3 separate regions of the Homo sapiens genome follow, and all the other regions are linked to region 2. Evidence: fine-mapped QTL for protein levels in blood plasma. A gene starts in region 2. Each other region holds a variant in brackets. All regions are shown on one strand. Distances are between the middles of the regions. Region 1 has its middle 11 kb from the start of FGFBP1. Region 2 holds the start of FGFBP1 (fibroblast growth factor binding protein 1). Region 3 has its middle 14 kb from the start of FGFBP1.

What was found. A credible set is the group of variants that fine-mapping cannot tell apart. PIP is the chance, under the fine-mapping model, that this variant and not a neighbour inherited with it causes the effect. The UK Biobank Pharma Proteomics Project read protein levels with antibody pairs (Olink). The fine-mapping took linkage between variants from a reference panel, not from the people measured, so its PIPs are less certain.
Region 1: its variant is the best candidate, but not a certain one, in a credible set for the plasma level of the FGFBP1 protein (UK Biobank, PIP 0.62).
Region 3: its variant is the best candidate, but not a certain one, in a credible set for the plasma level of the FGFBP1 protein (UK Biobank, PIP 0.88).

What each region holds. Positions count from the first base shown.
Region 1 is chr4:15,945,473-15,953,654 of GRCh38, forward strand. No RefSeq gene overlaps it. Among named protein-coding and RNA genes, the nearest start is that of FGFBP1, 11 kb to the left of the region's middle. The variant G/A (reference allele first, on the strand shown) is at 3,514.
Region 2 is chr4:15,934,492-15,942,673 of GRCh38, forward strand. It overlaps FGFBP1 (fibroblast growth factor binding protein 1), which reads right to left and starts at 4,249. Exons shown (of 3, transcript NM_005130.5): 1 at 4,196-4,249; 2 at 3,760-3,980; 3 at 1,086-2,161. The coding sequence starts at 2,141. The coding sequence ends at 1,437.
Region 3 is chr4:15,921,096-15,929,277 of GRCh38, forward strand. No RefSeq gene overlaps it. Among named protein-coding and RNA genes, the nearest start is that of FGFBP1, 14 kb to the right of the region's middle. The variant C/T (reference allele first, on the strand shown) is at 4,426.

The DNA of each region.
Region 1 (8,182 bases), 11 kb after region 2:
TACTACCACTCAGTCATTTTTTCATTCATCCTAAAAGCACGCATGAAGCACCTACTATGTCCAGGCCCTCAGTGTTAATGATTGCCTGGAAGTGCAGTCAAGAAAAATGGTCCTTACCCTTGAGGAGTTAGCAGACAATAGGGGAAACGTCAAGGATATCAGTCATGACCACACAGAGGTTAATGACTATGTTGGAGGGAAAGCTGTGGTGCTTTGAGTTGGGACATCTAGCCTACCAGAGGCAGACAAGAATTTCTCAAGAGCCTGCAATTATGCAAACACAGCTCAACAGTGGGGGAAAGGGGATGTTATCTCTTCAGTCATTATTCAGTAACCACTCTCAGCAAGGTGAAGTATCAGGCACTCAAGGGAAGATAAGATGAACATGGTTTGGCTCTTTTTCCTAGACCTGACCAGGTGAGTCTATGGCTCACACTTTGATGATTGCTGTAGTGGTGATACCTCATCACTCCGACATTTTGACATCAAATTAAGAGGTGATGTTGTCTGGGGTGGTGTTATTTTTGTGATAAACTTCTGAGTAAGGGCCATGTCCATTTGGAAGGCCATATCTTTCCCAACTAAGTACCCAGTGGAGTTGATGTGAGTCTTACCATTGGCCATGTTTGGTTAAAGCAATGGCTTATTAGGAGGGTGTGAGCCATTGGATCATAAATTAATGAAAGAACCCAGACTGACTTCTTAGTACATTTTCTGTTGCTATAACTGAATACTTGAGACCAAGTAATTATAAAGAAAAGGAGTTTATTCGACTCACTGTTCTGGATGGTGGGAAGTTTAAGATTGGGCAGCTGCATCTGGGAAGGGCTTCATGCTGCAACATAGCATGGTGGATAGCATCAAGTGGTGAGAATGCCTGTGAGAGCAGTGAACAGGCATGTGCAAAGGAAACCAAACACAAATGGGACCTAGCCTTATAACAACCCACTCTTGTGTTAACTAATCTACTCTCATGAGAGTGAGAAGTCATTCCCACAAGACAACATTAATCTTTTAATGAAGACAGATCCCTCCTGACCCAAATGCCTGTAATGCCTCTCAACATCATTACATTGGGGACCATGCCTCTATATGAGCTTTGTTGGGAAGGCACAGACCAAGAGTAATAAAATCAAAAGTCAACAGAATGGTGTGCAGGATGACACCAGGTAGCTTCAATTATGATAGAAGAAATCAGTCTCATATCTGCCTAGCCCTTGGGACAATTTATGGTAATTGATCCCTGTAGAGTTTGGGCCCTACATTTGGCCTCCTCCCCTTACGTGATGGAGGCAAGATGGAATTTTTATAAAGACACCTTAAGTCCTGGGCAAAAAAGAAACTCATTTAGGTGTTTATCTGATGGCCTGAAATTTTAAAAGAAGTTGTTTGAGGAGGCCATTTTGTATCTCAACAACACCAGTTTTCTGAGACCTATAATCTCCTGTAGCACAATGACATCTACCAGGTGACTGAGAATGAACAAAGCTACAACCCTATAGAGATAGAATATGCCCAAGGACCCAGTATTGGCTCCATCCTGTCTAAGATGCCCTCAGTAGCTGTGTGAAGCTTGTGGGTACTGTACCTATGACCCAAAACATAATGAGTATAGAGGGTCATGGGCTCAGGTCACAATAGCAGCAAGGCCAGTAACAACAAAGAGATTTGCCCATATAGCAATATTTAAGGTTTCTAGGAGTCACAGTTTTCCATGGGGAGACACCCTACACCTCGCCGCCAACCATTAGAGATGGGCCTGTCTAAATTTGGAATCAAATGGGTGAGTATCTTCATAGAGTCCCAATGCTCAGGGGCCCAACAGTCAATGTCAACCTGTGATGGACTGTTCAAGGAGGACCTCACTTGTCCAGGACTTTGTCCACCAGAGTAAGAGAAGATTTGTTACAAGAAGGGAGTTGTGCCTGGGCCTGAATGCCCAGCTCCTGAATTCTCTATGGTGAGCCCTGTCTACGGTCTTGGCAGGCAGGTCATCAGTCTCGGTGCCCTCAAAGCACCCTAGGGGCAGCCACTCCCTGCTCCTCCTCTCTCCAGAAAGCGTTTACTGTACTAATTACCCAAATTGCCTGCTTAACCTCACATCTGCCTGGTCACTTGGTCCAGTAAGGTGTGCACTGGGGACCTCTCTCACTCCCAATGGTACTACTACCTGTGCAAAGCAAGATCTGAGGTCCTTCCCTTGCCACAGTTTAGACTAGAAAACTGTGAAAGGGCACAGCAGAGGTAGCACAAGGCAATGGCAGCCAAAGCACAGGCACCCCACCGGCCGGCAATGCCCTCCCAAGTAGAGCTAATTCCTCCCTGGATTAGCTAATTCCTAAAGATAATACAGTATATGTGGTTGGCACAGTCAGCTAACGAGCCAAGAGCAGAAGGAGGCACGGTCCTTATGGAACACTGAGTCACCTTGCCGGCTGCTCAACTGTCCCAAAACGTACCTGTGGGATTTTAACTCATGAACGTGACTGAATGATGACACAAAGAGGCTGGTGCCATTGAAAAAATAATTTACTACAGTTACCTCCTCCCCACACCCCCGTATCTACAGGTTTCACATTTGTGGATTCAATCAACTGCAGATCAAAAATATTTTTTAAAAAATTTAAAAAAAACCATGAAAAATAATGCAAATAAATAATACACTATAACAATGACTTACATAGCACTTATGTTGTATTAGGTATTGTAAGTAATCTAGAGATGACTTAAAGTATACAGGAAGATGTGCATAGGTTATATGCAAATACCATGCCATTTTACAGAGGAGACTTGAGCATCTGCAAATTTGAGTACCCATGGAGGTCCTGGAACTAATCCTCCTTAAATACCCAGGCATGACTGTACTCACCTTTCCAAAGAGAAGGAGCATGCCACAGCACACAGGGCTTCAGCAGGAGAAACATGAGGTTTGGGTCAGGTGGTGAAAGCAGGAGCGAGGGAACACCTAGGCCAGAGCCCTTATCATCGTTTCCGAGGGAAAGTTGAGGCTGGATGGAGAATATGGTCTCGGATGTGCTGGTTTTAATAATTCCAGCAGGCTCTGGGGCACGTGGTGTGGCTGTCTGGTCCTGTCTCCAGGTAGATTTAGGGTAAGGGTTAATACTGGCTTGGTATGTGAGAGTTAGATAAAGGGAATGGTTGGTTTACATGTGACAGGCGTGATCCCAAACATACTGTGTCATCTTTAGGAATTAGCTAACCCAGGGAGGTCTGTCTCTCCCTGAATTTATCAGGTTCCCAAAGGTATCAAAACAGCATGAGTTGAAAAAATAAAAGCACATGATTAATACGACCACCCAGTCTCATAGATTAAGGAACATGAATGTCACCATCATGCTTGGTTTTGTATCACCTCAGCTTTTCTCCGCATTTGTACTTTGTTTTCTCGGACTAATTTTCTCTACTTCGTGGGAAACACGGGTGTCACCAGTTCCAAGCCAAGCAGAAGTGCGAACAATCCCAGGGAGAGATATGATAGGTTGGTCTTGAGTC[G/A]CATTCCTGCCATTGGATTTGTCAACCATGGCCAAAGAGCAGGATTCTATGATGAATGGCCCAGGCCTCTGAAACATGCAGCTGGGTTTGGAGGAGGAGCAACTATTCTCCCAGAAGGAGAGCGCTGTTCCCAGAAGGGAGAGAACCTATAATGTAATTGCCTGTGCTGGAAGAAAGCTACGGATAAGGTCAACAAAGAGGTTTGCGGGGGAACATTCAAGGTTTCACCTTAGGCTTCATCCAGACCAGGGGCTGTCAACCTTGCCAAGGATGAGGATCCTCTTACAACATCCACACTCTGTGCAGACCTGCCCGTCGCAGCACTCAATCACAAACTGTGACTGAGAAACAATGTGATGGTAAGAGTGACAGCAGCTACCACTTGAGCTATTACTCCTTGGAATTTGTGTGGATAATCTCATGTAATCCTTGAATCACGCTTAGGAGACAGGTACTGTTATTATTCACATTATGGAGAGGAGAAAATAAAAGATCACTCAAAACCAGACAGCTAGTGAACGATGGGCCAGAGTCCAAAACAGGTCATTGATTCAAAAAAATGTATTCACTTAACCTATGTTATCAAAAAGTGCCACACGGCCGGGTGCGGTGGCTCATGCCTGTAATCCCAACACTTTGGGAAGCCGAGGCAGGTGGATCACCTGAAGTCAGGAGTTAGAAACCAGCCTGGCAAACATAGTGAAACCCCGTCTCTACTGAAAATACAAAAATTAGCCTGGCCTGGTGGTGGGCACCTGTATTCCCAGCTACGTGGGAGGCTGAGGCAGGAGAATCGCTTGAACCCAGGAGACAGAGGTTGCACTGAGCCGAGATTGCACCACTGCACCCCAGCCTGGGCAGCAAAGTGAGACTCTATCAAAAAAAGAAAAAAGAAAACAAAAAGTGGCACAATAGTACATGGGATTGGTAATGCCTTTAAATACAGTTGCATTTTATTTACCACAATGCTATCTACGGTCATTTGAAAATGAATTGTACATTTGTTTACAATAAATATTACTAATTTTTATTTTTTCTTTTAAAATATTTTTTAGGCATGGTACGGTGGCTCATGCCTGTAATCCCTGCGCTTTGGGAGGCTGAGGCAGGGAGATCACTTGAGGCCAGGAGTTTGAGACCGGCCTGGCCAACATGGAAAAACTTTCTCTTTAATAAAAACACAAAAATTGGCTGGTAGGGATGGTGGTGAGCCCCTGTAACCCAGCTACTTGGGAGGCTGAGTCTTGAGAATCACTTAAACCTGAGAGGAAGTGATTGCAGTCAGCCAAGATCACACCACTGCACTCCAGCCTGGAAAGACTCCATCTCTAAATAAATAAATAAATAAATATTTTTTAGAGACAGGGTCTCACTCTATCACCTAGGCCAGCATGCAGTGGCACAATTATGGCTCACTGCAGCCTTGAATTCCTGGGCTCCTGTGATTCTTCCACCTCAGCCTCCCAAATAGTTAGGACTGCAGGCACACACCATCACACCCAGCTAAGTTTAAAGTTTTTTTTGTAGAGACAGGGTCTCATTTTGTTGCCCAGACTTGTCTTGAACTCCTGGACTCAGGTGATCCTCCTGCTTTGGCCTCCCAAAGCACTGAGATTATAGCCACTGTGCCTGGCAATATGTTGCTAATTTAATGGCCTCATGAATCCCTACATCTCCCCCTTCTAGCCCAATGTCCTCTATTCTCCCTACCCCAAGCCAGGCCCTGCTCTGGAGTCCTTTGGGGTCACCACTTGGAAAACTCTGAGATAACACAGGCTGCCGCTCCCGAATGACCAAGGGGAAGAAATTCCACTGGGGCACTGGAAGAGGAAAAACAGTATAGGCATCCCATAACCAGCTCATCCTGAGAACTTGTACACCATTTCAAACATGGCGGAGACAAACCCTACAGAAGGACGGTGTCATCTGAGTGTGACAAAGGGAGGGATAGAGAATTAGACTCCTGCCCATGGGGCAGGTTTGATTTAGTAACATGTTCCCCCTTCTTTCAATGTAAATGATCTGAAAACAAAAAAGGGGCCAGAAACCTGTTTCACTCTCCCTTTAAAACAATTATCTGAATAAATTCAACAACTTAATTTGTCTTAGGCTTAGAACTTACACTAACAAAATGTTGTGACAAATTTCCATATTTAGCAGTGATGTGATTTCATATTTTGCAGTGATCAGGCTGATTTAGGCTCATGTCTTTCCCAGATTTGGTTGCAAGACTCATATTTCCAGTTTTCAGAAGCATCTGTGACTCCATTGAGATAGCATGTGGCAACCTTATCCAGGAAGACCAGTCTGATGTATGAAGAGTTTTTCCTTCCTGTTTCATCAAGTTTATCTGTCTACCTGATTTATAATCATACTATGAATCTGCATAGCACAATATCATTGTCAAAGCCCTTCACTGTGTATTATTACTATATTAGATCTTTTTAAAATTATTTTATTTATTTGTTTGTTTGTTTATTTATTTTTGCAGAGACAGCATCTTGCTATTTTGCTCAGGGTGGTCCTGAACTCCTGGACTCAAGCAATCCTCCTGTGTTGGCCTCCCAAAGTCCTGGGATTACAGGCATGAGCCACTGCTCCCAGCCCCATCTGATCTCGATAGTCCTCAATAAGGAGTAGCCATTATTATCACCTGAAATAAAGATGAGGAAACTGACTTCTTTAGTGACTTCCCTCAAGTTTGTTGAAGTGTTTCATTTCAACAAGTACTCGTTTGCTAAAGTTAGGCCCAGCTCTCCCATTCTAGTAGAGAAAATACAGTATTTTTTTCTTACTCTGGTGGAAAAAGATGAAAAGTGATACCACAATCCAAAACTAAATCTGGCAGTAACTGATGCATGCTTCTAGGAAGAGTCCAGCAGAAAGCTGCACAGGGGAAATCTTGGTACCTCTTCAGTTCACAGCCTGACCTGGTTTGGCTTCAAGAAGCAGAGAGGACCACAGAAAAGGAGAGAAAGAAAGGGAACAGATACTTCCAGGGAGGTGTGAGACAAAGGGTGAGTAATTCAAAGGCTAGAGAGAGATGGTGAATATGTGCTCACATAAAACAGGTCACTCTCATTTAATAGGTCTAAAGACTTTCTCAGCTCTAATTTCTAAGGTGTCAATAGCTAATGACTTCATGGTAAGGTAAGAAAGATGTTGTTTAAGGAACAGCTACAAAACCTCCCAGCTGCCTACAGAAGGGCATTAGGCTTGATCTAGAGGCAAAATATGTCCTTTAAGAGTTCCTCTGTGCTGATTATTAACTGTAATCATTGTGGGGCACAAAAATATGTTACATATTAGTAGTTAGAAACACAACAAAGGATTTTTAGTTTTTTTTTATTTCTATAGATTTTTGGAAAACCGGTGGTATTTGGTTACATGAATAAGTTTTTTAGTGGTGATTTGTGAGATTTTGGTGCACCCATCTCACAAGCAGTATACACTGAACCCAATTTGTACTCTTTTATCCCTCACCCCCTCCCAACGCTTTCCCCCTGAGTCCCCAGAGTCCACTGTGTCATTCTTATGCCTGGTGTATTAGTTTGTTTTCATGCTGCTGATAAAGACATACCCGAGACTGGGAAGAAAAAGAGGTTTAATTGGACTTACAGTTCCACATGGCTGGGGAGGCCTCAGAATCATGACAGGAGGCAAAAGGCACTTCTTACATGGTAGCAGTAAGAGAAAATGGGGAAGAAGCAAAAGCCAAAATCCCTGATAAACCCATCACATCTCATGAAACTTATTAACTACCGTGAGAATAGCATGGGAAAGACCATCCCCCATGATTCAATTACCTTCCCCTGGGTCCCTCCCACAACACATGGGAATTCTGGGAGATACAATTCAAGTTGAGATTTCAAAGGGAACACAGCTGAATCTTATTATTCTGCCACTGCCCCCTCTAAATCTCATGTCCTTGAATTTCAAAACCAATCATGCCTTCCAAACAGTCCCCCAAAGTCTTAACTCATTTCAGCATTAACCCAAAAGTTGACAGTATGAAGTCCCATCTGAGACAAGGCAAGTCCCTTTTGCCTATGAGCCTGTAAAACCAAGCTAGTTACTTCCTAGATACAATGGGGGTATAGGTATTTGGTAGATACAGCTGTTCCAAATGGGAGAAATTGACCAAAAGAAAGGGGTTACAGGGCCCATGCAAGTCCAAAATCCAGCCAGGCAGTCAAATTTTAAAGCTCCAAAATGATCTCCTTTGACTTCAGGTCTCACATCCAGATCACACTGATACAAGAGGTAGGTTCTCATGGTCTTGGGCAGCTCTGTCCCTGTGGCTTTGTAGAGTACAGCCTCCCTCCTGGGTACTTTCATGGGCTGACGCTGAGTGTCTGCAGCTTTTCCAGGCACACAACAGTGCAAGCTGTTGGTGGATCTACCATTCTGGGGTCTGTAGGACAGTGGCCCTCTTCTCACAGCTCCACTAGGCAGTGCCCTAGTAGGGACTATGTGTGGGGGCTCCAACCCCACATTTCCCTTCTGCACTGCCCCAGCAAAAGTTCTCCAAGAAGGCCCCACTCCTACAGCAAACCTTTGCCTGGGCATCCAGGCATTTCCATACATCTTCAGAAATCTAGGTGGAGGTTCCCAAACCTCAGCTCTTGACTTCTGTGCATCTGCAGGCTCAACACTGTAGGAGATCAGT
Region 2 (8,182 bases):
CTTGCTCATAGCAGGTAAGAGATAAGTGCTCTTTTTATTGATGATCATGATGACATCCAAATGTCACTCTGAGGCTGTGGCACTGTGGATTGGCCTCTGACGTCCTCAGTGTGCATCCCAGTAGGTTGGTGAATGTAAAAGGCTTTCCTTCCCCCCCACCTGCCATTCCTCCCTGCCACCATCAGACATGCTAAAGAACAGTGCTTTCGTCAGCTTCTGCTCCTCCTTTCCCTGGTTGTGGAATTGTGACAAGGCATTGGAGACAGTTCATCCTCTCTCCCCCACTCTTAAAATACAACTTTCAGATCCTTCATACTAACATATAAATGAATAATGGCAGTCTCATCGCTGCATCCCATCCGATCCCAGACACCTGACCTCTCCCAGAATCTGAAACTTCCCATCTATTCACTTTCATTCATGTTATCAAATGCCTAAAGTGCCTCCACTTTGCCCCATTTTATTCCCACAGATACTCTTTCCAAAATCCAGCTCCACTATTCCCTCCCCTGTTACACTCAAGCCCAGATCTTACAGCAGTTTCTGCCTTCTCTCTCTGGTTTTCCTTGTAGCCCTCTCCCCCTTCCTTTATAGCCCTTATCTTGGGCCACTGTACTTAACTAGGCCTTTCTTCTCCAAGAATGAAGAATGAAGGAATGAAACTCATTTCTTCTCCAGAATTGAGCTTTGCAAGGCCGGGGTCTTTCGGGTGGGGGAGGGAATGGGCAGCTCTGACATGAATCAGTAGCGGAGGTTCCTCAACCCTGTAGACTCAGCTGTCAGAGCTCCTGGGTTCCAATCCTACCGGCCCTCTTACCATCTATGAGTCCCTGACAAATGATTTAATCACATTATATACCAGGTGTCCCACCTGAAAACAGGGATCCTAGTTATTATACTTCAATAAACACCAAACACCACTGACCAATGGATACAATTATAAAGAAGGATTCCAGAAAGAGATAACTTGCGAAGGGTGGGGAACTGGAAGTTCCTGTTTAGATTGTTTTTCCATTGATATATGGGGACTACTTAATGAGTTTATTTGGGACCAGACACAGAGAAAACCAAGCAATGTTTGAATGTATTTCTGAAAAACACCCAGAGTTTTATTACCATTAATTCAGCAGAAAGTTCGTTGCACTGAAATTATCACTCTGGCTCATTCAGCTCAAAGACTCTTCGCTGCTCAAACACATAGCTGTGTGGGCCATGGAAATACATGCTGCAGGAAACAGCCTCTGAACATCGCATCCAAGAAAAATAAGGCAAATTCCAAAACACAAAAGCAAAAAATACAAAACTTGTTTAAATATTTCGTTGCACTCACTAAGCACAAAAGTTCATATTTTGGGGGGACTGTAGAGAGCTTTAAAGTATACAGAGGGACTTACGACATGACATCTCTTAAGGGAACCCGTTCTCTTTTGACCTCATTAGCATGACGTGTCCTGCACTATGCTGAGGAAGAATGTGCAGAGAGAGCTCCAAGTCTCTCCACAGAACTCCAGGGCAGTCTTCCTCTGGTTTGCCATATCTGGGTCCTCCACACACTCGGGAGCTTTGGTGGCCATGGTCTGGGTCACTGCTAGGCTAGAGGGGGTGGTCTCTTTGCCTTTGATGTGCTCCCTGGGGGACATCTCTGTTTTCTCCTTCCTGGGCTTTGTGTTCCCAAATAGAGTGGAGCTGACTAGCTTAAGACTGGATTCTGGAAAATCCTTTCTGCACACTCTGGTTTTCACAGCTGTCTTGGAATATCTACAGATGTCTTTCTGTGAGCGCAGATTCCGGGCAACTTGTTTCCAATAGACTCTCTCATCCTTGAGCTTTAGGCATGAGGTTGGATTGCCAGCAAAGACACAGGAAAATTCATGGTCCAATTGAGTGCACTCAACCTTGAGAGAGATGCCCTCCTCCTGCTCAGTAGCAGCCCATCTGCAGTTGGCTTGGTCTTTGGTGACAAACTTGCCTTTGTTCCCGGGCCTGCTTTTCTGCTTAATCTGGGTGTTGCCCAGAGTGTCCTTTTGTTCTGAGACCACTTTGCTGTGAAGTCCATTCTTCACTTTTTTTTTCCCCTCCACCAGGAGCACCTGAGCAGCCAGTAGGAGGAAGGAGAGCAGGGTGAGGCTACAGATCTTCATGGCTGCAGCTGGGCGTTCACCTGTTTGACAAAAGGCAAGTGAGTCAGTGGCAGGCAGCAGTTCAGCTGTGCAGGACTACACGCTGGCCTCCCCCTACCCTGACAGGTGCCTACATGATTTCAGAGTAGACCAAGAACGCTTCTGGCTCCTGGAGTCACTAGACAAACAGCCTGTCTACTCACATTTCCACTTGACTTGAGTCTTGAGTGTCACAAAAGTACCACTCTTTGGAGCCTCACGAACTCTCATTTATCATTTATTCACTCATTAACTCCTGCATCTGCTCACTCCTCACTCTTTCATTCACTCATTCAACAAGCATTTACTGAGCACCTACTATATGCCCCCCACCAGACTAGGTGTTGAAGAAATCACCATGATTGAGAAAGCCTCAGATTTGAAAGAGCTTAGAGACCACTCTTTGGGAGAATTTAAATAGCATTGATCAGGGAATCTATCCCGTCATCTCTGTTTCTGATATGAAACAAGTTACTGCTCCAAACTTTCAGCTCCAAAGGGCTGGATTTCTATCTCATGACTCCATATGGACACAGATGCCCAAAATGAGAAAAGACATGACAGATGCCCAAAATGAGAAAGGATGTGGTAAGCATCATGAAAGGTGATGTTGACCCAGAGTTGAACATGCCTGGGGTTTGGGTGGGGTGGGTGGGGTTGTGGGGGTGGGGGAGCTTTTTGTGGGGAAGTAAGAGTTTAAGGAAAGGTGTGAGGTGGGGTGGTTGTCTGATTTGCCTGGGCAAAGTGAATCAGGGTGGAGAGAGGTGAATTTCAACCAGATAGTTCACACTACAAGATCGAAGACAAGGATCATGAGAAATCATTGAATCAATAGGATGAACACCAACGTCACACTGAACTGCATGAATCTGATCATGTGTACAATAAAAACCCATGCTTAACAGAAGAAGAGAAGTCAGTTTCTATATGACACCTCCTGTGTGCTAAGTACTGGTCTAGGGTTTGATTCCCACCTTGTGAAATCCACACAAGAGCTCTTCCAGGTAGCTATTAATATGTCATCCCAGGTGACAGCTCTGACTCTTAAGGCTCAGACAGGTAAGTAAATTGCTCAGGATCTCATAGTGGGCAAGTTCAAAGCTGGTATGGGTAGCCAGATCAATCTCCTTATTCCTTTCTGTCACCCCTGGTTGATCACTTTTTGCTTTTCACATTTACTCTGCCCTTTAAAAACATTGCCAAAGAATAAGAAAAACAACTATGAACAATGACAATTTAGTTTCATATAACACATAATGATAAGATGATTTGTATTATTTGTGCTCCATTTAAAACAAAACACAGAATTTTTTATAAAAAGAGGCAGACCCAGGAAATGGTCCTGATCTGATTTCTACCCTAGAAGTTGGCCATCTTCTAGGGTTAAGAAGGAGAAAGACAATCACAAAAGGGCAGAGAACAGCAATAAATGGTGAAGAGGAGACTGGATATGCCAGAAAAACACCCAGTCATTTCTCACGGCCCTGGGGCTCAGCCCCCACCTGCCCATGATGGAATGCAGGCCCAAGGAACTCCAGGCCCTTGGTGGAGTGAGAAGTGGCAGCAGGTAATAAAGCTGTTAAAGGAGCGAGGCTCTTACCTTGTTCTGAGCACACGGATCCAGTGCAATCCCAGGCAGTGCGAGTGAATTGCAGGCTGCAGCTGTGTCAGGTAGAGTGCAAGGGGGGTAGACTATTCAACAGGAGCCAGGCTGACTGGGTTTTTATAACACTCACTGGGTTTTTACAACACTGTGGCACGTTACTCACAGCTCCTCCCAGCCACGCCCCTCCGAGGGAGCCGGTTCCTGCAGGGAAAGTGCTGGATGTAATCCAGTGAAAAGGGGGGTTACCTGCATGCCATCAAACGCTTCCTCTAGGCCCTTCCCTGTCCACCCTGTGGCCAGGATAGGAGGACAACTCAGCCTCACAGTGACCCTCCTTGATGGGGAGAGGACCCCAGCAGTGATGTCTATGGAGGAGTAAAATAACTATAATGACATGATCCGAGCTGCCAAACTACTGAGCCCATTTTACCTGAGTTCTCCTTTTCCCTCATCACATCCGCTCTAGTAGGGAGTGCAATGATTCCTCCCCTTTTACAAAAGCAGGAATTGGTTCTGGAGATATGTAAGAGCTTGTCCAAGTTCACAGAGGCAGGAAAAGGAACATCTCAAAATTAAAAGTGAGATTCTCTACATCCATGGTCTGATCTCTTCCTGCCTGCCACTCTCAATAAATCTTTGTTGAATGGGTGACTGAAGTTGCCGAAGTTTTCGTAGTGTCTGAGTTCCTTTTTCCATCTGAAGTTACTACATAAGCAGAGGATACCCTAATTCTAGAGGCAGGGAAATTTACATTAAAAATTCCCTCTTTTTTATCAGGGAATTCTACCAGGCTCTGAGAGGCTGGTAAAGAGGGAATTTTTAATATAAGATTACTGTTGTAAATACTTACCTTCAGGTCTCATTCAGAGAGCTCAGGCTGCCCTGCCTGCTACAGGCACAGTCCCACACCAGAATGACCCAGGTGGAATCCTGGCCACAGCATGTGTTTAGCTGAGTGCTATGCCCAAACCACTTAGCCTCTCCCATCATCCATTTGCAGTGTGCTGACAATAACAACGTCTCCTTTATAGCTGCATACTAAATTTTTACTGGGCTAAGCTGTTAACATAAAGTGGAGCAGAATCGTTTTGCCTCATGACAGGGTCTTAAGTTGTATACTTTGAAAACAGACATTTGTTATTTACATATGCAGCATTTAAAAAGAAACTCACTTCTACAGGGAAGATGTGGCCCTCATTATATATTATCACCTCACCTTTCATAGATTTTCAGAAGAAGAAATTGTTCACTTTTCCTTAATTCAGCCATAAGAAAACTATTGTTTAGTGTGATATTAAATGGCAACTGACTTTTGGGTTTGAGATAAGGCAATAGGGAGTGATGGGGACTGTGGCAAACTAGAGAGTCTCTGCCTCCATAGAGGTCAACACTCATCTCCAATTGACTGAGAAAATGCAGGGATTAGGCTCAGTATTGTCACACTGTCTGATTTTTAAAATGACATCCCCAAATCCAGATGTGTTTATATGAAATTGGTTGGCAGCTAATTAAAATTTTCTAAAAATAAAGCTGTAGCTCAACACTATGCAGGCCAAAACTTGTAACTGTGTTTGGATTTTATGAACGATCCACCTGTTTGAGAATTCCGTGGTCATAGCTATAGATGTTGACCAATTTACTCAGAGGCTCAGTCTCTGCATGAATCTGTTGGAAGAAGCCATTTCTGAAGCTGTGTGCCTCTCTCCTAAAATTGCCTCACCCAGGGGTCCGTCCTCACTATCCTCACAAACACCCCGCTGAGGCCCTGACCTCCACGAACAGGCTCTCTCATGCGGTATTTTGGAGGATTATTTGGACATAGGCAAGGCAAAGCTGCTTTGCTCAACAAGGGGAGTCTCCTACAAAATGGAAAATTCTACTTGATCCTTGGGAGGCAGGCAGATTCTTTCTGGAGGCAGATTGCAGTTGGAACACAAAACATATTTACAAGGAAACATGTGGACTCCGGGGTCTTTCTGGGAAGTGCTTCTCTGAGCTTTGCCAGGTAACACTGCACATTCCCCACTGGCTCCTTGTGGCCCTTCCCCTTCCTGTGACTCCCATCCCAGCGTCTGCTTTGCTCTTTCCCTTCTAGACTCAGCAGCACAGCATCAGAGCAGGCTGTGGGGCAGTCACCTCCTTGGCTCATCCTGCCCTTCCAACCTCATTTCCAGGTACTCACACGCAGACACATAAATACACATACACACTGACACACATACAAAGACACACACAAACACACACTGACACACTCAAACACACACAAACACACTCAAAGACACCACACTCATAGACACACAGAGACACACACATACTGACACCTAGACACATTCACACACATACTCATAGGCACACACACACAGAATCACACACAGTGACACTGACACACACACAGAGACAGACACACACACACATGCACACACACACTGCAATCTGGCCACACTGAAACCCTGTCCCACCATTTGCAGATACTCCATGCATGCGCCCACTTCCTGCCTTTGCCTCTGCTGTTCCCTGCACTTGGGATCCCCTTCCCTTCCTTCTCTGCCTGGCACACACCGCCTCATCCTTCAAGGCCAGGCTCCAATGCGAGCCCCTCTCTGTTGGTGTCATTGGCTCCTGACGCCCTGCATGCCACCCACATCTTTAAGAATGTCCACGGGGAGAAATGGCACACTTCCTCCAATGAGCTTACAGCGTGCCAGGCACTGTGCTAAGGCTGTTTCCCAAGCTTTCTTCGTATCTCCATGAACTAAGGAAACGATGTCCTTTTCCAGTGGCTCTGGGGAGACTGCAGAGGACATGGAGCCCCAGCCACGCAGTGCATAGCAGGTTCCAGTAACTTCAGGCCCCTCCACCTCCCCATGCTCCCAGCACTGAGGGGCTCTGTAATTCTTGGGGATGAGTACATAAAGGCCCATTGCACAAGAACCCCAGGAGGAAAGTCGGCCCAGGTCCTCATGGGACAGATGTGGAGGCAAGGCTTAGGGGGACTAAGCACAGTGTCTGACACACAATTAGAGAAGAATTATCTGGAGGCCGCTGCTATCATTCTAAACACAAATGAGGCAGTGTACGCATACACTGATAAATTGTGGAATTCTCCTCTCTTTGCCCCTTCATACCTTCCCTTTAAATTTTTTTTTAAAGTTTTAGAATAATTTTAGGTTTACAGAGAATTGCAAAGATAGTTATCATTCCAATTCTCACCTGGGTTCCCTATTTACCTGTTACATTACTATGGTACGTTTGTCACAACTGACAAACATTGATACATTATTGTCAATTGAAGTCCATACTTTATTCAGACTTGCTTAGGATTTACCTGTTGTTCTAGTTTTTATTATTATTATTATTATTATTGACAGACTTTATTTTTTAGAGTAGTTTTATGCTCATAGCACAATTGAGTGGAAAGTATCAAAAGTCCCATATACCCCTCCCCACACGCAGGCACAGTCTCCCCTACCTTCAACATCATGAACCAGGGTAGTACATTTGCTGTAAGTAATAAACCTACATTAACATGTCATTATCACCCAATGTCCATCATTTCCATTAGGTTCACTCTAAGTGCTGTACATTCTTTGGGTTTTGAGAAATGTATAATGACATGCATAATATCAATTAACTAAGAAAGGTATAATGACGGTACCCACCACTATGGTATCATACAGAATAGTTTAGCTGCCCTAAAAATTCTCTGTGTTCTGCCTACTTACCACTCCATCCCCTACAACCCCAGGCAATGCTCATCCTTTTGCTGTCTCCTCAGTTTTATCTTTTTAAGAATTTCAAATAGTTGGAATCACACAATATGTAACCTTTTATATTGACTTTTTTACCTAGTAATATGCACTTAAGGTTTCTCTATGTTTTTCATAACTTGATAGCACATTTCTCTTAAGTGCTGATAAAATTCCAAAGATTGGATATATCCAAGTCCCTTTATTCATTCACCTACTACTAAAATTCCATTGATTGGATGTACCCGAGTTCATTTGTTCATTCATCTAGGACATTTTGGATGCCTCTAAATTTTGACAGTGATGAATAGAGCTGCTATAAACATGCATGTGCAGGTTTGGTGTAGAATTAAATTTTCAGCTCCTAATGTTCTTTTTCTGTCCAGGATCCCAACATGACACCAGGTTGCATTTAGTGATCGTGACTTTTTGGGTTCTTCTTGGCTATGGCTGTTTCTCAGATGTTGCTTGTTTTTGATGACTATGGCAGTTTGCAGAAGAATTGGTTAGGTGTTTTGAGAATGTCCTTAATTTGGAAATTGTCTGGCATGTTCTGGTTAGATTGGGATCATGTTATTCTTCTCATGATCACACAAAACTTAAATGATGAATACTTTCTTTGGGATTGTGAAAGGAAGTCTGAACACAATTGGTAAAAACACACTGGCTAA
Region 3 (8,182 bases), 13 kb before region 2:
AAGTCAAATTAAATGAGCTAATAAAAATCAGGCCTGTTCAAGTGCCCAATTGATTTAAACATGAAGATTGTCAGTTTCCAGCATCACTGATTCTAATCCAACAACCCTCACCATAGAGGTCTTCATTCAGCCTGCTGTGTTTGGAGGTTTTGCTTATTGGGTGTGTATCTGTAAGGTAAATCTTGACGATTTCCTTACTACAGACAATTATCTGGCTGGAGATGTCATGTTTTAGACCTTGGCCATCTTGTGCAAGTTACAGAAGTTTTGCCAAAGACACTTTGCTTCTATCCGGGTTTATATCCCTGACCATCCACTCAACCATCACTTATCCATTCACTCAGCAAGTATGAATCACTTATCCATTCACTCAGCAAGTATGAATCACTTATCCATTCACTCAGCAAGTATGCCATGGCTGTGTGCCAGGCAACACTCTCAGCACAGCATATATGGAGCTCCCTGACTAGTAGAGGGATGTAGAGGATGGACAAGTGATCAGGCAATAAGAGCACAGAGAGAGCCTGGATCTGTGCCCTCTTGGCCCCTCCAGGTCTGGGCTTCATTAACAATCTCCCCTCTTCTGCAGCATCCTCAGCTTCTCCCTCTCTACCTTCCCCTAATACCATAAAACTCATCCACTGGCCTGGCGGTCCCTCCTAGGTATCATCCTACTTTTCTCCTTCCTCATCCAGACTTCTAAACAGAGTAATCTACATCCTCAATGCCTACCTTACCTTCACTTCACACCTCAACCCCCAGTAATCCATCCACCAAGAGAGTCCCCACAGCAATCCATCCACCAAGAGAGTCATAACTGCTCTTTCTAAAGTCACCTACAACCTCCTAAGTTCTGTGAACCCCCAAAATTTGACACAGGTCTCAGTTAATTTAGAAAGTTCATTTTGGCAACTTTGAGGATGCATACCCATGTCACAGCCTCAGAAAGTCCTGATGACGTGAACCCAAGGTGGTCAGGGCACAGCTTGGTTTTATACATTTTAGGGAGATTTGAGACATCAATCAGTATATGTAAGAAGTACATTGGTTCTGTCCAGAAAGGCGGGGACAACTCAAAGCAGGGAGGGGGCTTCCAGGTCACAGGTAGGTGACAGACAAATGGTTGCCTTCTTTTGGGTTTCTGATAAGCCTTTCCAAAGGAGGCCATCAGAATATGCATCTATCTCAATGAGCAGAGGGATGAGTTTGAATAGAACGGGAGGCAGGTTTGACTGGAGCAGTTTCCAGCTTGAATTTTCCTTTTAGCTTAGTGTTTTTGGGAGCCCAAGATATTTTCCTTTCACAGTCCTAAGAAGCAGATACTCTTTGTCTCTTATTTACCACCATATTTAATGCTACTGATCACTCCAGCCTCTGCTCCCAGGAAGCTTCTTTCTTCTTGTCTTCTCAGATCTTTCATTCCTTGTCTATAGCTTTGTAGATTCTTCTTCCTTTCACTTCTCAGTGCTGGTGCTCCCCAAACAACCCGCCCACTTTTCTAGATGCTCCTTCTCCCTGGGACATCTCATTTACTCTCAGGGTTTTAACTAGAATTTACCTACTGGTAGCTTTATTTATTTATTTTTGAGACAGAGGTTCACTCTTGTCACCCAAGCTGGAGTGCAATGGTGCAATCTTGGCTTACTGCAACCTCTGCCTCCCAGGTTCAAGCGATTCTACTGCCTCAGCCTCCTGAGTAGCTGGGATTACAGGCATGTGCCACTTCGCCCAGCTAATGTTTGTATTTTTAGTAGAGACGGGGTTTCATCATGTTGGCCAGGCTAGTCTGGAACTCCTGACCTCAGGTGATCCGCCTGCCTCAGCCTCCTAAAGTGCTGGGATTACAGGAGTGAGCCACTGCGCCCGGCCTACTGGTGCCTTTAATATCCAAATCTCCAGACAGAGAACACTCAATATTTGAACTCAAATTGAATGCCTGCTAGACATTTACACTTGGATGTTCTATAAGCAACTTAAACCCAACTTGTCCCAAACAAAACTCATCAGTCACCATTCTTTAAACCTGTTTTTTTGCTACTTTTGTATTTTTATTTTAGTTTTTAAATTTTATTTTTATTTTTATTTATTTATCTTGAGACAAGCTCTGGCTCTGATGCCCAGGCTCTGGAGTGCAGTGACATGATCTTGACTGACTGCAACCTCTGCCTCCCGGGCTCAAGCCATCCTTCCACCTCAGCTTTGCAAGTAGCTGGGACTACTGGCATGTGCCACCAACCCTGGCTAATTTCTGTGTGTGTGTGTGTGTGTGTGTATATATATTTTGTTTGTTTGTTTGTTTGTTTGTTTGTTTGTTTTTGTAGAGACATGGTTTCACCAAGTTGCCCAGGCTGGTCTCAAACTTGTGAGCTGAAGAGATCTGCCTGCCTTGGCTTTCCAAAGTGCTGGAATTACAGGCATAAGCCACCACGCTCGGCCCTGTATTTTTATTTTTAATCTCAGTTATTGGCACTAAAATTCAGTTGATTATCCAAATATGAAGCCTGGCTTTTGTCTTCACTATGACCTCTCAATTTTTCAAAAAAATCAAAGTTGAATCTAATTTGTGTCCTTTCTGTTACTTCCTTTTCAGCTCCTTCTCATCTCTCACCTGGGTAAGTTCTATCTCCTTCCACCTTATGCCCTTTTCAGCCTTACCATCTCCCACCTTGGCCCTTATTTCCGTGGTTCAGTTGGTCTCCCAGGCTCATCCCTCATGGCCCACAGCTCTGTCTACTGAATTGCTGCCAGAGAGGTCTTTATTAAAATCCATATCTGACCATGTTGCCTCCATACCTAAAACCCCTCAATGGAGCCTGGACACGGATAGGATAAAATATCAACTCCTTAACCACGTGTGCTGGGTATCCTCCACCTGCCTTTCTGGACTCACTCACCACCTTTCTCGTCCTTCTCCGACCTGGAAGGCTGACCTCCACCTACTGCCTCAGCTGAGCCTTCTTCCTTCTGGATGGGTTTGGCCATTGGGAGGCATGAGAAAGATGTCAGAATGCAGGAGAGAAAAATAGCTGGGATATTTACTCTCTTGCCTCCATTTCAACCCAGCTGCAGGCTTCTCTACCAGAAGCTCCAGCTCCAGTGGTGTGTGGTGGTGGTAGCAGGAGGGGGTCCCTAGTGTTAAAGCCACAGCCACCGTTCTTTCTTGAGTTCTGGTCTCCCTCTTTGCCTCTTTTAGCCTACGGGAGGTGGTGGCTCTTGGACTTGCAGTTGCTAGCCCAGGTGTCTCGTAACCCATTGTTGGTTTCCCTTAACTCTGCCCGCATCCTTGCTAACAGGCCCCCCATTAATACTCCTCAGCCACTCTGTATGTTGTGCCTGCTACCTGCTAAGACTCTCATCTTTGTGCTCCCCCATTCTATCCTCAGGCATTGCATCCCAGCAGCACCGCACTGCTTCTGCTTGGTTTCTCCACAGGAGCCTTGCTTTTCCTCACCTCCAAGCCTTTGCCCAGGCTAGCCCTCTGCCTACAGCACCCTTCCCATTCCTCCTTACATGGTCTAATGACCCTCTGAAGCGTCATCTCTTAAAAGGCTTCTGTCTGTCCCAGGCTAGGTGTAGGTCTCTGCCCACTTTCATTGCATCTGACACATTCCTGTTAAATCATTCCCTTCTCTTAGCACTTAGGAGCACAAAATTTAATGATAGGTTGCCTGTGTTCAAACTCTGGTCCTGCCTCAGTTTTCCCCTCTAAAAAGGAAAAATCCCTACCTCATAGGATCATGGTAGTTCATAAATGAAACCATGTGCGCTGAGTACGTAACACAGTGCTGGACATATAGAAACACTTGGCAACTGTGAGCTTTCAGTCTCTGAAACACACTAGCTTTTTAATCTTTATTTATTTAGCATAGATTTCGCTTAGAAATCATCCCAGCTAACTCATTCATGTTTTTTAGCCAGTACCTATGAGTGAGTACATCCATTGCTTCCAGTCTTTGGTACTGTAAATAATAAAATAAAAGCTAAAAAAAAAAAAACAGAAGAAAAACAATGTCATCATGAACATCTTTACACACACATCTTTGTGATGTGCAAATATATGTAGCATAAATCTCTGGAAATGACTGTGATTTTATTTTTAAAATTTAATTAATAATTAATTTAAATTATTTATTTATTTTTTGAGACAGGGTCTTGTGCTGCCACCCAGGCTGGAGTGCAGTGGCAGCACAATCATAACTTACTCTGCAGCTTCTAACTCCTGGGCTCAAGCAATCCTCTTGCCTCACCCTCCTGAGTAGATGGGACTACAGGTGTGTGCCACCATGCCTGGCTAATTTTTTGTACTTTTTGTAGAGATGAGGTTTCACCATGTTTCCCAGGATAGTCTTAAACTCCTGGGCTCAGAACAATCCACCCGCCTCAGCTTCCCAAAGTGCTGAGATTACAGGCATGAGCCACCACTCC[C/T]GGCCTGGATTGTGATTTTAAACTCAGAGAGCTATTGACAGATTCTTCTGAAAATGGGTTGTCCTCATTTGCATTCTCCCCACTAGTGTGGCTTCTCTCTCTGTAGTCTACACTCATGCCTTCCCTCATGACTTAAAGAATATTTTCGTCCAGAAAAGATCGTATTCATTAAACAAGCTAAACTAAAGCAGCAATGCTCAGAGTGCCCGTCACTGCCTTGCGGACTCTCAGATCCATCGCCCCACACTCCCCACTGGTCTATATGGGGTTGAGGTGAGGCTGTGGATGCAGACTCATTTCCCAGGCTCCCCTGCTCATTGCTTCTGATGAGATGTGGCCAGTAGGAGCAGAGGAAGGGAAGAAGCCAAGACATTGCTTCTCTCTGTTTCTGGTGGCATTTTCAGCAGTCACTGTGACTCCAGTGTCCCTGAAGTGGTTGCTCTCTCCAGGGTTCCATTGCAGCTGCAGGCTTGCCAAAGTTTCCTGGCTCCAGCTGGGTGCCCTGGCCCCCGGGCTTTGGCAACCCCGCCTCCACCATTTGTCATTCCAGCCATGGGGCTTCCCGTGGGAAGCTTCTGGCTGTTGGATTGCTCCATTGTGCCCAGGTTGCCCTTTTAGCTTTTCCAATATCTTTGTAACTGGTTTTCCATTTTATTTTTATTTAATTAATTTATTTATTTGAGATGGAGTTCCACTCTTGTCCCCCAGGCTGGAGTGCAATGGTATGGTCTCGGCCCACTTAAACTCCACCTCTCGGGTTTAAGAGATTCTCCAGCCTCAGCTTCCCGAGTAGCTAGGATTACAGGTGCCCGCCACCACGCCCAGCTAATGTTTGTATTTTTAGTAGAGACGGGGTTTCACCATGTTGGCCAGGCTGATCTGGAAAACCTGACCTCAGGTGATCCACCCACCTTGGCCTCCCAAAGCTGGGATTACAGGGGTGAGCCACCACACCCAGCCTGGTTTCCCATTTTTAATCACCTCTGTTGAACTATCTATTTCAGTTTTGTCTCATTCCCTCACCTCTTCTTAACTGGACACTGACCCGGGGTTGACAAGACCGAGGAGAAATGGCCACATTCTTATACTGTTGGTGGGAATGGAAATTGTTGCAGAATTTTTTGGCAGGCAGTTTGGCAGTCCATACCAAAAGTTTTAAACATGTGTACTCTTGCCTTATCTTTGAGAGATACGTGTTAAATACTCATGAATGAAATGACATGCTGTCTGGAATTTGTTTCAAAACAATCCAGGGAGTGGGGATAAGTAGGATCTCGCATAGATGCAACAAGATGGGCCACGAGCTGACAGTTGTTTGAGCTGGATGACGGATACGTTGGCACTCATTACTCTGGTCCTCTTTACTTATAAATGTTTGACTTCTTCAATAATAAAAACTATTTTCTGGCCAGGTACAGTATCTGATGCCTGTAATCCCAGCTCTTTGGGAGGCCTAGGCGGTAGGGTTGCTTGAGGCCAGGAGTTTGAGACCACCCTGGGCAACACAGTGAGACCCCATCTCTACAAAAAATAAAAAAAATTAACCAGATGTGGTGGTGCAGGCCTGTAGTCCTAGCTACTCAGGAGGCTGAGGCAGGAGGATCACCTGAGCCCAGGAGTTAGAAGCTGCAGTGAGCTATGATAGTGCCACAGCTGCACTCCAGGCTGGGTGACAGAGTGAGACCCTGTCTCAAAAAAAAAAAAAATTCCCAAAACCCCCTGATTTCCAAAAGCAAAATCTTGGACCTTGGAGAATGATTTAAAAAAACAAATTCTCTTCAAGGATGGGTTTTAACGGCGTTGTTTATAATAACAAACAATTGACAACATTCTGATTTTCCAGCAGTGGGATGGTCCTGTCATAACTTACAATATATCCACACACAAAACACGATTCCGACTTGAAAAGATGTTGCAGCATTCGTGATTTTTTTTTTGGATTTGTGATATTTTAAGTGAAAGAAAAGATATCAGCCTGTGATATTACCATCCAATTAAAAGATTTGTGTATGTGTCTAAGGAGGATTTGTGCCCAAGCGCGAAGGGTGGTGCCTTCGAATGGGCGGGCCTGTGCTCTTTCTTCCTTTGACTTGTTTGTGCTCTCTGGTTGGTTTGTTGTTATGTACAATCATTACTTTCAAATTCTAAAAAAAAAAAAATGAATACATTCTTTCTTCCTTCCTCCCTTCCTTCTTTCAATGTCTCTTTTTTTTTTTTTTTTGAGACGGAGTCTTGCTCTATTGTCCAGGCTGGAGTGCAGTGGTGTGATCTTGGCTCACTGCAACCTCCACCTCCCCAGTTCAAGTGATTCTCCTCCTTCAGCCTCGCGAGTAGCTGGGACTACAGGCGCCCACCACCACGCCCAGCTAACTTTTTGTATTTTTAGTAGAGATGGGGTTTCACTGTGTTAGCCAAGATGGTCTCCATCTCCTGACCTCGTGATCCACCCGGCTCTGCCTCTGAAAGTGCTGGGATTACAGGTGTGAGCCACCGTGCCTGGCCTCAATGTCTCTTTTCAAAGGGGCAGGGCCCTGGTTGACGATGTGCATGTATTGGGGTAGGGAAGCCAGTGGGTCCCACCTTGGCTTCTTTTTAGTAAATGTCAGTTGTCTGCTCAACTTTTCCAGGCAAGGCTTAGGAAAAAAATGGGCATAGGCTAGGGACAGAGGGAGGGAAGAGAAAAAGGAGTACTAAAGAAGATGGGGTGGCCACAACATCTTCCACACAACAAAGTGGCTAAACACAGATGCCACAATCAAGAGTGTGGGTGAGGGTGTGCAGTTGACAGTGGGAGGTGCTGCCTGGCATGGCCCCTTCCCATGCCCCCAGCCATCCTGGCCTTGTTCCCTCTTGCATGTTTATGTCTATTGTACTACGTGGTCCTCCCTCCTGGACGCTGCCTCTGTTTTGCCTTTGCATTTGACTACTGACACCTGCCCCTCAGCATGTCAATCTCTCTCTCTCTTTTTTTTTTTTTTTGAGACAGAGTCTCACTCTGTTGCCCAGGCTGGAGTGCAGTGGTGCGATCTCAGCTCACTGCAACTTCCACCTCCCAGGTCTAAGTGATTCTCCTGCCTCAGCCTCCTGAGTAGCTGGGATTACAGGCACCCACCACCACGCCTGACTAATTTTTTTTATATTTTTAGTAGAGACAGGGTTTCACTATGTTGGACAGGCTGGTCTCAAACTCCTGACCTGTGGTTATCTGCCCGCCTCAACCTTCCAAAGTGCTGGGATTACAGGCGTGAGCCACTGTGCCTGGCCCAGGATGTCAATGTCTCTTGATGATCCTTTTCAATATCTGCTTTTCCACCTGCTGACCCATTTTTGGCAACGTGGTCTAATAATAAGGATAAATAACCGAGCACTGGGCTATGTCCCAGAAATGTTGTCAGGAGCTTCATAAACACCATCTCACCGAATCCTCCCTGCACTCTGCCGTGGTGATAACATTCCCCCAAAGCACAGACAAGAAGGCTAAGACAATCAGAGAAATGAAATGACTGTCTGAGGCCTCCCCAGACAGTGGGAGGCAGAATGAATTTGAAACCCAGGGCTCTGCTCATTCCACTGCCTGGGGCTGCCTCCCCGGCAGACTCCTCTGCTCCAGTATGAGTGCTTGAGAGCACAGCTGCCCGGGGAGGTTCCAGGCTCTGCTCTTACTAACTCTGTGACCCTGGAAAGTGACAAAACTCCTTACACTCCCTGGACAGTCTTGACAATAGGGTGGTCGTGAAGATGAAAGAGCTTATGCAGG